Regions from separate parts of the Homo sapiens genome. Here region 2 is linked to region 1. A link means that fine-mapping ties the variant in region 1 to the expression of a gene that starts in the linked region. Tissue or cell type: whole blood. Region 1 holds a variant in brackets; the other region holds the start of a gene. All regions are shown on one strand. Distances are between the middles of the regions. Region 1 overlaps SGK1 (serum/glucocorticoid regulated kinase 1). Region 2 holds the start of SGK1 (serum/glucocorticoid regulated kinase 1).

Evidence for each region.
Region 2: it holds the start of SGK1, and the variant in region 1 is fine-mapped to the expression of SGK1 in whole blood (TOPMed, PIP above 0.99).

The regions. Positions count from the first base shown.
Region 1 is chr6:134,265,952-134,271,331 of GRCh38, forward strand. The region is part of intron 1 of SGK1 (serum/glucocorticoid regulated kinase 1); the gene reads right to left. Among named protein-coding and RNA genes, the nearest start is that of SGK1, 49 kb to the right of the region's middle. The variant A/G (reference allele first, on the strand shown) is at 2,242.
Region 2 is chr6:134,315,199-134,320,578 of GRCh38, forward strand. It overlaps SGK1 (serum/glucocorticoid regulated kinase 1), which reads right to left and starts at 2,914. Exons shown (of 14, transcript NM_001143676.3): 1 at 2,194-2,914. The coding sequence starts at 2,262. RefSeq lists an enhancer at 2,462-2,741.

The sequences.
Region 1 (5,380 bases):
TTTTAATTGCTTTATTTATTTATTTCTTTATTCATTTATTTATATTTATTAAGATGGAGTCTCTGATTGTCACCCAGGCTGGAGTGCAGTGGCGCGATCTCAGCTCACTGCAGCCTCCTCCTCCCTGGTTCAAGTGATTCTCCTCCCTCAGCCTCCTGAGTGGCTGGAATTACAGGCACCGTGCCCCCACGCCCAGCTAATTTTTGTATTTTTAGTAGAGACGGGGTTTTGCTATGTTGGCCAGGCCGGTCTTGAACTCCTGATCTCGGGTGATCCACCCACCTCAGCCTCCCAAAGGGCTGGTAATACAGGCGTGAGCAACTGCACCTGGCCTATATGTACTCTTTTCAATAGCCATTTAAAATATCTTTGTGAGGCCGGTTGTGGTGGCTCACACCTGTAATCCCAGCACTTTGGGTTTGGGAGGCTGAGGCGTGTGGATCACCTGATCTCAGGAGTTCAAGACCAGCCTGACCAACATGGTGAAACCCTGACTCTCCTAAAAATACAAAAATTAGCTGGGCGTGGTGGTGCACACCCGTAACCCCAGCTGCTCCAGAGGCTGAAGCAGAAGAACGGCTTGAACCTCGGAGGCAGAGGTTGCAGTGAGCCTGAGATCATGGCACTGCATTCCAGCCTGGGTGAAAGAAGGAGACTCTGTCTCAAAAAAAATAAAATATCTTTTTGAGTTTACTATCCTAAAGTTAAAATTTTGGGTTTCCTTAAATATTTCTGTCACTATAGGGCCCCTTAAGCATGTTAGTAGGTATATTAAGAATGTTTCGCTGATTCATTAATGGAAGTCTAAATGAAACTTTAAAAGTTTGAGACTCCAATAGAATGTATCTTCTTAATGTTAGTACTAAATGTGTTTTTGATCAGTCTAAAAAGTGTTCAATTTCATTAGAGATGGATAATGTTTTTTATTATTCTTATTCAGATAGTTTTGGGCTTGAAGTCTGGTAACTGTTCTTGCTTTGTCTCCAACGTTGTAGTTTAAAATCAATCTTTTTACTCTGGCTTACTTTCAATGTCTCTTTTGCCAAGTAGATTTAACTTTAGGGTTACTGTGAACAGGATTTAAACAGATGATAAATCTATTCAAATATATTTGTAAGTTGTATGCCTGGACTAAGAATCTTTGTATCTTGAAATGTATATCTCCCCTGACTCCCTGAACACCCGCACTCTAGAGCTTGAGTTATGGCCAACAAAATAAAATTTTTTTTAAATATTCTTTTTTCATGTTATTTTTATTTCTTTTTGTTTTTTATTTTTATATTTTCTTTTTCTTTTTTTTAATATGTTACAGTCTGAATATGTTCATAGTGACTTTTCTGTTTGTTTGGTTGGTTTTTTTTACAGAGATACAGTCTCACTCTATTCCCTTTGTTGGAGGGCTGTGGCACGATCATAGCTCACTTCAACCAAGAGCTCCTAGGCTCAAGCTATCCTCTCGCCTCAGCCTCCCAGTTACCTGGGACTACAGATGCGCGCCACCACGTTCGGCTATTTATTTTTTGGAGAGACGGTGTCTCATTATGTTGCCCAGGCTGGTCTTGAACTCCTGGTCTCAAGTGATCCTCCTGCCTTGGCATCCCAAAGCTCTGGGATTACAGACATGAGCCATTACACCTGGCCAGAATAAAATTATTAAAGGGACATACTATTTATTTAATAAAATAAGTAAACTATAAGTAAGAAGGAAAATAAAGCATATGAATGATCAGGATCATTGCGGGTGGAGGGCTCAATTTTAAACAGTATGAGCCAGGATACTATCGGATACTCCCTCTCTGTCCACACAGAATGTAGCAAGGGATATGGAGAAATACTCCCTTTCTCCAGAAGCATCAGAGAAAAAGTGTTACTTACAAAAATGAATCCAGCAACACATTTCTAACCGGACTGTTGCTGAATTTTACTGCATGCTTTGTCTTAAAAAGGTTTTGTCTCCATTGGCTTAGTCCTTATACTGGCTTCAACGTGTCCCTTCTTTATGACTCCTTGACACTTTTCACCAGCTTTGAAGCCTCACAAGTGATTTTTACAGGCCCAATTAAGGACAGAGTTTACGATGTTTGCTTGCTCTTGAGAGAGTGGCTGGACCGACCCAGTGAATGCACAGGAGTTAGGCAAGGTGCCCTTCAAAACTGCTGAGTAGAGAAATCCTCCCACGGCCCCTCGGGGAATTCAAGCTACAACTGGCCCATTGTGTTTCCTCAGGCTGCGGATTGCTTT[A/G]CTGGAGGGAGTAGCTGACTGTGAGTGGCTTTGGGAGCCCTTCATAACAATGGCTGGAGGAGAGCTGCAGCAGCTGTGTGTGCGAGAAACACGAATGCCCGGATGCCAGCGGCAGCCTGGGCTCCTGGGCCTCCTGGGCCACCTGGGCCCTAGTTTTATTCAGAGCTACACAACTGTTTGTGAAGCGCATTGTAAACAAACATAGACGGGGTGAGACATCCTCTTTATCCTGAATAAATCAAGAATTCCCAGGCCGGGCGCTGTGGCTCATGCCTGTAATCCCAGTACTTTGGGAGGAGGCGGGCGGATCACGAGGTCAGTAGATCGAGACCATCCTGGCTAACACGGTGAAACCCCGTCTCTACTAAAAATACAAAAAAAATTGCCGGGCGTAGTGGAGGGTGCCTGTAGTCCCAGCTACTCGGGAGGCTGAGGCAGGAGAATGGCGTGAACCCGGGAGGCGGAGCTTGCAGTGAGCTGAGATCGCGCCACTGCACTCCAGCCTGGGCGACAGAGCGAGACTCTGTCTCAAAAAAAAAAAAAAAAAAAATTCCCTCACTTGGGGTTTATAGGAGACTGTTCTCCAAACCACACCAGACTTTTAGAAGCAACTACCTCTACAGATACCGGGGTGAACCAGTAAGGCCCTTCATTTAACTAGACAGAAACTGAGTGAACAGTGGGTAAACAAAATATTCAACCAAATTCTTTGCTAAATCCAGTCCACCTTGGTTTTATTAATGTCTTTACTTGGAAAAAAAAAAAAAAAAAGCCATCCAAAAGCAATCCCTCAGTCTAGAAAATTGCCAGATGTGATTAAAGAGATTGGCTGGCTTCTAGGGATTTTCCACTTGTGGTTTTTTCCTATTATCTAAGAGCAAACAGATATTACTATTAATTTAAAATAGTTTAGCTGATAATGATATCAACCGATACAGGAAAATTATAGAGAGTTTAGGTACTTAGGTGTGAACTCAGGTGGCAACACCTACTCTCATTGGCCCCCGTCCTTTTAGGGGGAAGAGCTGACTCTCTTAAAAAGCCAAGAGAGCTTGAAGTTGCCTTCTGTAATTTCCAAACAGGCATTTTTTTTTTTTAATTATAGAGAACTGACTTTGCTTACTTGACGCCTCAATAACTTTCAATTTCGAGAGAGTCAGCCCAGTTTTCTAGTGAAATTACTTGGATAGGTCAATAGATTATAAAAAGGGAGGCCAGGTGAGGTGGAGGCCGAGGCAGGTGGATCATTTGAGGCCAGGTGTTAAAGACCAGGCTGGCCAACATGGTGAAACCCCGTTTCTACTGAAAACACAAAAATTAGCCACCATGGTGGCGTCCACCTGTAATCCCAGCTACTAGGGAGGCTGAGGCAGGAGAATCCCTTGAACCCAGGAGCCGGAGGTGGCAGTGAGCCAAGATCGTGCCACTGCACTCCAGCCTGGATGAAAGAGTGAGACTCTGTCTCAAAAAAAAAAAAAAAGAGAGAGAGAAAGTAAGAGACCTGCATGCCTATGCCTCTCCCAGAGGGTGCATGCTAGCAGGTTAGTTACGGCATGAGTGTAATTTAGGAGAAGGCTCCTGGAAGCAAATTCATCTCACACTGATACTGGAGCCTGAAGCTGCTTCATAGCATGTCTCCTAAAATATAACAGTGCTGTAATATTCAGTAATATTAATCAGATATCTTCACCCCAGCTATATGTCATCATCATGTATCTGTCTTTTCTCTCTCTCTTTTTTTTTTTTGAGACGGAGTTGTACTTTTGTTGACCAGGCTGGAGCGCAATGGCGCGATCTCAGCTCACTGCAACCTCCGCCTCCCGGGTTCAAGCAATTCTCCTGCTTCAGCCTCCCGAGTAGCTGGGATTACAGACGTGTGTCACCACATCCAGCTAGTTTTGTATTTTTAGTAGAGACAGGGTTTCTCCATGTTCGTCAGGCTGATCTCGAACTCCTGACCTCAGGTGATCCATCCACCTTGGCCTCCCAATCCCAAGCCTGTTGGGATTACAGGCGTGAGCCACCGCACCAGGCCTATTACTGTCTTTTCTCTAGTGTTTGTAGTGTTTATTGCTTGTATAAAACAACAGGACTTTTATGCTAACTGGTCTTGATATTAAGCCTATGTCACCTTTCCAACTGGATCATAAGCATGAGAATAGCTTCTTAGGCCTTAGGAAAAAAAAAAATTCCAGAGGCTAGTGTATGGGCTTACAAACAAACTAGGTAATAAAAATAGGAATCTCTTGATTGCTTTTAATATTTACTTATAGATCTCAACAAGTTTTGCTAACATCCTCCATCAAGGTAATACAGATTTTCTATTTAAATATTTCTCTTTAACACGCAAGACCTATCCTGGAGCAGGCACCCTGAGAAGATGGAGTGACTTTTAGAATTCCCTGACCTTCTATGCTGTTGTCCTTGGGATCTCCCAGTCCTTTCCTCTCACCTTGACCTAGTTGCATCCTCTTCTAGATTCTCAGGGGCCAACCTGTGTCTCCAGGCCTAGTCCGGAGGATGGAGTGGTGGGGAGGACTCTGGGGAAGTGGGAAAACGGAGACGCAATGCGTCCATGTACCCTATTTAATGTTGCTGCTCACAGCAGGCAGCACCCCAGCTCCGTCTCTTCAGAGGACAGTGCTTGCCTGTTCTTCTAGCTCAGTAAGTATAAAGTCTCCCTCCTCATCCTCCCCATTGAGGAATCCACCCCACCCTGTCCCACCCCACCCCACCCTACACTGCCAAGTGTTAAATAGATAAAGTGCAGGAATTCATCAACGTACGTTTTTCTTTGGAAATACAGGTGAAGTTTTTCTCATTTCTTTAAATTGTGGGACTCTGCCAGGTGCGGTGGCTCATGCCTGTCGTCCCAGTGCTTTGGGAGGCCGAGGCAGGCAGATCACCTAAGGTCAGGAGTTTGAGACCAGTCTGGCCAACATATAGTGAAACTCCATCTCTACTAAAAATACAAAAATTAGTCGGGCGCGGGGGCACATGCCTGTAATTCCAGCTACTTGGGAGACTGAGGCAGGAGAATCACTTGAACCTAGGTGGCGGAGGTTGCAGTGAGCCGAGATTGCACCACTAGACTCCAGTCTGCAGAGTGAAACTGTCTCAAAAAAAAAAAAAAATTGTG
Region 2 (5,380 bases), 49 kb after region 1:
AAACCAAAGTAGACAAAAATCAAAGAATTTATCCCTGGGGCATTCAATGACTTGATACAAGGTCACCTTCTACTTAGTTAACTGTCCTTGAGGAGTAAGGAGAGCGCAGGGGCAGGAGAGATGTCTGATCCTGTCTCCAGCAACTGATAGACCCAGGTTAGAAGTTAGATGAAGCTGCCTGCCAGTTATCTTGGTAGAAACTTCTTTCTGCATGTACTCAGATAAGACATCAGTACCCTGGGTGGTTCTCTGCAAAATTCAAGGTCTGCAGAGTCACCAACTGAAGTCTATTGGTAAACTTGCTTTTAAGCAAAACAAAACCAAATGGCAAATTAGTATTTCTATTAGTACATTTTGATAACAAAGAAAATAAAAGACAATTTAAAATTTATGTAACTTAAATCTACATTGCTTAAGAACATCTGACTGAGGAGTTTTAGAATATCCCCAATACCATGAAATAAATACAGTAATTAAAAGGCAATAGAGTTTAAATACTGGATAATGGGCTATGGCATTTTTAAAATTAGCAAAACATTTGTTTATTATTGAAAATTAGGGCTGGGCCTGGTGGTGGACATCTGTAATCCCAGCAATTTGGGAGGCTGAGGCAGGAGGACCACTTGAGCCCAAAAGGTCAAGACCACCCTGGGCAATATAGCAAGACCCCGTCTCTAAAAAAAAGAAAAAGAAAGAAAGAAAATTAATTTTCATAAAGGGCTCTTCCCTTGGAAAGAAATATTTTAGCTACAGAGAAAAACTAAGAAGCCTTGTGGAGCTCTGTGAAGTTGCACTGACTTGCTTTCACTTAGCTTGCAGCTCACTAGTGAGATTTCACATGGTACTCCCACTCCAAGAGCAGGGGCCAGGACAGGTTGGTTTCATTTTGGTTTGAATGCATATGCTTTGGCCCACAGACTTGGAGAAAGATTTTGCTTTACTGATGAGAACTCAGTCAAGGGTGCTTGGGAGCCTTCGCTGGCCCTCTAGCTGGGCCTGACATGTTGCCTGCATTTCTAGCCTTGCCTTCCCAGCTTGCCCATTTGGTGCAGGGAGATAGTCCAGCCCACCCTGAAATTCACTGTGTTCTGCGGATGAGTTAACTGAAGGGCTGTGTTTCAGGAGTGGCACAGAAAGGACCTGAATGAAAGGAAGGAGGAATGAATGGAGAGAACCATTTTGGTGGAATTGCCCTAGGGTATTAAATAGGATGGGGCAACTGGGGACTGGAGGATGTTCCTTCTCTTACGTTGCTTAGGAAACACTGTCCTTAAGAGTGTCAGTGTCATTCCTTTAACAATCATTCATTTCTTACCTCCCGCTTGTGTATAAATTTGCAGATTTACACAGACCACCAGTGTGGCCATCCCAGTGAACTGAGTTTATTGTGAAATATACATGCAAAAAAATCCTTTTTTCTCACCTACAACCAATGCAACATTATTCATACTTTGAGTTGAAGAATAAGGAGTTTAAGAAATAAATGCATACAGCAACATAACCCTGAATTATCACTCAAATACAGACCTCCCACTGCTCTCTCCCAAAAAAAAAAAAAAAAAAAAAAAAAAAAAGGCAGTTATTCTAAGCAAAAGCAAAAATTGAGGCAACTTAAAATAGACAATTTTAAATGCTGGATTCCATCATTTCTGTAAAAGGTCATTCTACTCCTTTGCTATTTATACCACAGATAGAGACACAGCAAATTATTGGCTGAATGGATTTGGGAAACCAGAAGCTGCTGCTTCTGACGAACGAAGATGATAATGCATCACTTGAGACTGAGTGGATGAAAGGTGTAGAAAAGTTGAACCCTTCAAAGATGAGAGGAAGCTGCTAAATTAGCCCCTGACTAAATTACTAGCCATAATTGTACTCAAGCCAGTTCTCTTTGCGACTGCCTTGTAATCTTTGTTGTGGCTTGAGAGAGAAAAATCCCCATTCCCAGCTCAAACCCGTTTAAGGCATCTCAGCCCAACCCCCTCCTCCCAATGCAACTCTTCATAGCCCCCTGCCCCTCCTCCAACAAATTCTAATCAAGTCAGGTATAGTTCTCAGCTTTACCACTGCCATCAGAAGCACGGCTTACATTAAGGGTTTAGCAACAAAACCTCAGGCTTACTTCAGGCAAACATTCAAAAGCATTTAAGAGAAGCACAGAAAACAAAAGAAATAAGCAAAACCTGTCCTTACCCGCTTCTTAAAAAATTGGAAGGCTGAGCATTTCTTGACTGGGAATCCATTCATGTCTTTGTTTACCATTTTCCACCGTGGGGAATTCACAGTTATAGATCCAGGTTGGCACCCGCCTGGTTAGTGCATATCTGTTTCCCCGGTTTACCTCCTGCAGACAGTTAATGAAGACTGAGCGGGATGGAGAATCTAGCGGGGCTCAGTTCTTCACTCGCGCATTCTGCAGCACCAGCTACTGCAGCAACCTCTCCCCACTTTCAGTTGCCACCGACAGCGGCTTTTCTCCTTCCATCATTGCTCCGAAACATATGCATCACCGCTGCAGGACCCTGGGGGCCGGACGGTGGGATACGGCCAATCTCCGGGGAGATGCTGTGGCTCTTACCGAGCGGGAGAAGGGTACGCCTCCCCGCCCCCAGCTACCTGGCTGCTCTTCCGCGGCCGGCGCGGGGAGCGAGTCGCTCTTCTCCAGGTGATGCGCTCCTGGAGGCGGCTTGAGAGAGGAGAGTTGTTTTTGATTGTGCAAGTTCCAGTGGGAGCTGTAGTTAAGCAGCTGAGAGAAGGAGTAAGAAAGAGCAGAAGCCAGAGGGAGGGAGGGAGAACAGCGCCAGAAAGGCAGAGGGAGCGAGAAGGCGAGGCTGGAAGAAGCAACGGTTCATGAATATCTGAGCAGCGGATGGAGAGAAGGCACAGCCGGCTCAGGGCACACTGAAGAGCAGTTGACTCCCCTTGGGAGGGTTACTTTAAATAGCTTCTTTTCTTTCTTTCTTTTTTTTTTTTTTTGGTTAGGACCATTTAAATCAGAGTTTCATATAAATTGCACACCGTTTTTATTTTATGCTCATTGACATTCTTTTGAATCCTGTTGCTGAATAAAAGCCTCTCAACGGAAATGTAATCACATTTAATCTCGACCTGTCCAAACGTGGAAGAAAATGAAATAAAGTGCAAGCGTAGGTATAACAATGGAAGATCTCTCACTATGTAGAAGCTCTTTTAGCCTCCCCTCCCCTACTTGTCATTATATAGTGGGCAATGGTGACGGTAATTGTGTCTTTTTCATTAAAACAGCTTATTAAAAAAAGAACACAATGAACATATACAAAGTACTTTATTACACACATACACACACACACGAGTTATTACCAAAAAGTACTACTGAATCCATTTAATGATGAGGAAGGTTTGATAAATAAAAGAGTAAAGCATTCTTCCTATTAGGTGAAAAATTTCCCAAAAAATCCTTACTCATGTTATCCTTTGCACACTGAGCTCCTTTTAAAAAAGCCATTTAATTGTATGTGGCTTATTTTTCCATTTTTATTCTTTAATGTTGATATTTTATGGGAATGATTTTAAAGATTAGTTGATAGTAAAGCAAGAAAGCAAAGAAAATAAACTTGGCATCTGACCTGGCAGAAAGCCACCAACATCGGTGTGTGGCTTTCTGCCATCACCTGACCTCACTGTGCCTTTCGGACACTGCCTCATCCATAAAATGGAGGCAGCCACTCATTCATTCATTCACTCATTCATTTATTTAGTCATTCATTATTTGCTATTTCATTCCATTAATAAATCTAACTCTGACAAGTGTCCTCAGGATGTGGAGCCTTTTCATAATCATCACAAGGGAATATAATTGATAAATAAGTGAAAGGCGCAATGCTAATTTGAAACTGATTATGACCTCATTATATATAACACACCTAACATTGTTAAAGTATTTACATGGAAGTCTCTGGTAAGAAGAGAAACATCAGGTTAAACTGGGAAAGAAATGCATGGGTTTCATTGAATTGGACTATAAATCTCTACAGTTGGGCCAGAGTTTTTGGGAATAAACATGAAATCCTGTTTGCTAAATGCCTTGAGGTTTCCAAAAAGAAAATGCAATACAACTAAATGATGGCATGATAACCAAGGGAAAACAACTATTCATTTTGGAGAGATATGTTAAGTTGTCCAAGATGCAAGTATATGTTATGTAATCTACAACATTGATAAGTTTTTGTGGTTCTTCTAAAGAGTTCATTTAAAATTATGGTAGTTCAAAGGGAATTATTTTGAGACGATGGAAGTGTTCTCTATCATGATGATGGTGGTGGTTACATAACTATGCATTTGTCAGAACTCATCAAATTTTATATAGGAAAAGGGAAACTTTTGCTGCATGTAAATTATACCTCAATGGACCTCATTTTAAAAAATGATGGTCATTCAAGTTCTTTCTTTTTCGTCCCATTGCCACTCCCCCAAAAGTGTTTTAACAGACATTTATTGAATTTGAGTAATATACAGGAGGGGACCTTTAAGCACTCTGCTAGGAAGGAGGTGCTGGGGCTTTGCTTAATCCCACATTGGCCTAGCATGCATACTGGTTGATATCATTTGGCTGTGTCCCCACCCAAATCTCGTCTTGAATTGTAGTTCCCACAGTGAGTGATTTCTCATGAGATCTGATGGTTTTATAAGGGGCTTTTCTCCCTTTTGCTCAGCACTTCCCCTTCCTGATGCCATGTGAAGAAGAATGTGTTTGCTTCCCCTTCTGCTCTGATTGTAAGTTTCCTGAGGCCTCCCCAGCCATGCTGAACTGTGAGTCAATTAAACCTCTTTCCTGTATAAATTACCCATCTCACTATGTCTTTATTAGCAGTGTGAGAACGGACTAATACCCTGGTTTCATGTAGGATGTATGTTCATTTGGGGTGCAGGCGGGTGGTTAATAGAGATTATGAGGGAGGAGAAGACAAGCTAAATGCTATCTTTTCCCTCACTCCATGCCACCTCTTGAAGATGCTGCCACTGTCACTTGGTCTATGCTAGATCCTATGGAAGGTCCAGTGCATGTAAGTGTCACTGGTTTTTGTCACCAAGGAACTCACAGCCTAGTAGAGAAATATACAGTGTGGTAAGAATACTATATACAGTAGTCCTCCCTTATCTGAGGTTTTACCTTCCACAGTTTCAGTTACCTAAGGTCAACAATGGTCTGAAAATCAGTGAGTACAATACGATACTTTTAGAGACACAGAGAGAGACCACAGTCACATCATTTTTATTATCGTACATTGTTAAAATTATTCTACTATTGTTGTTAATCTCTTACTGTGCTTGATTTATAAATTAAACTTTATTATAGGTATGTATGTACAGGAAAAAACATAATGTATATGGAGTTTGGTAC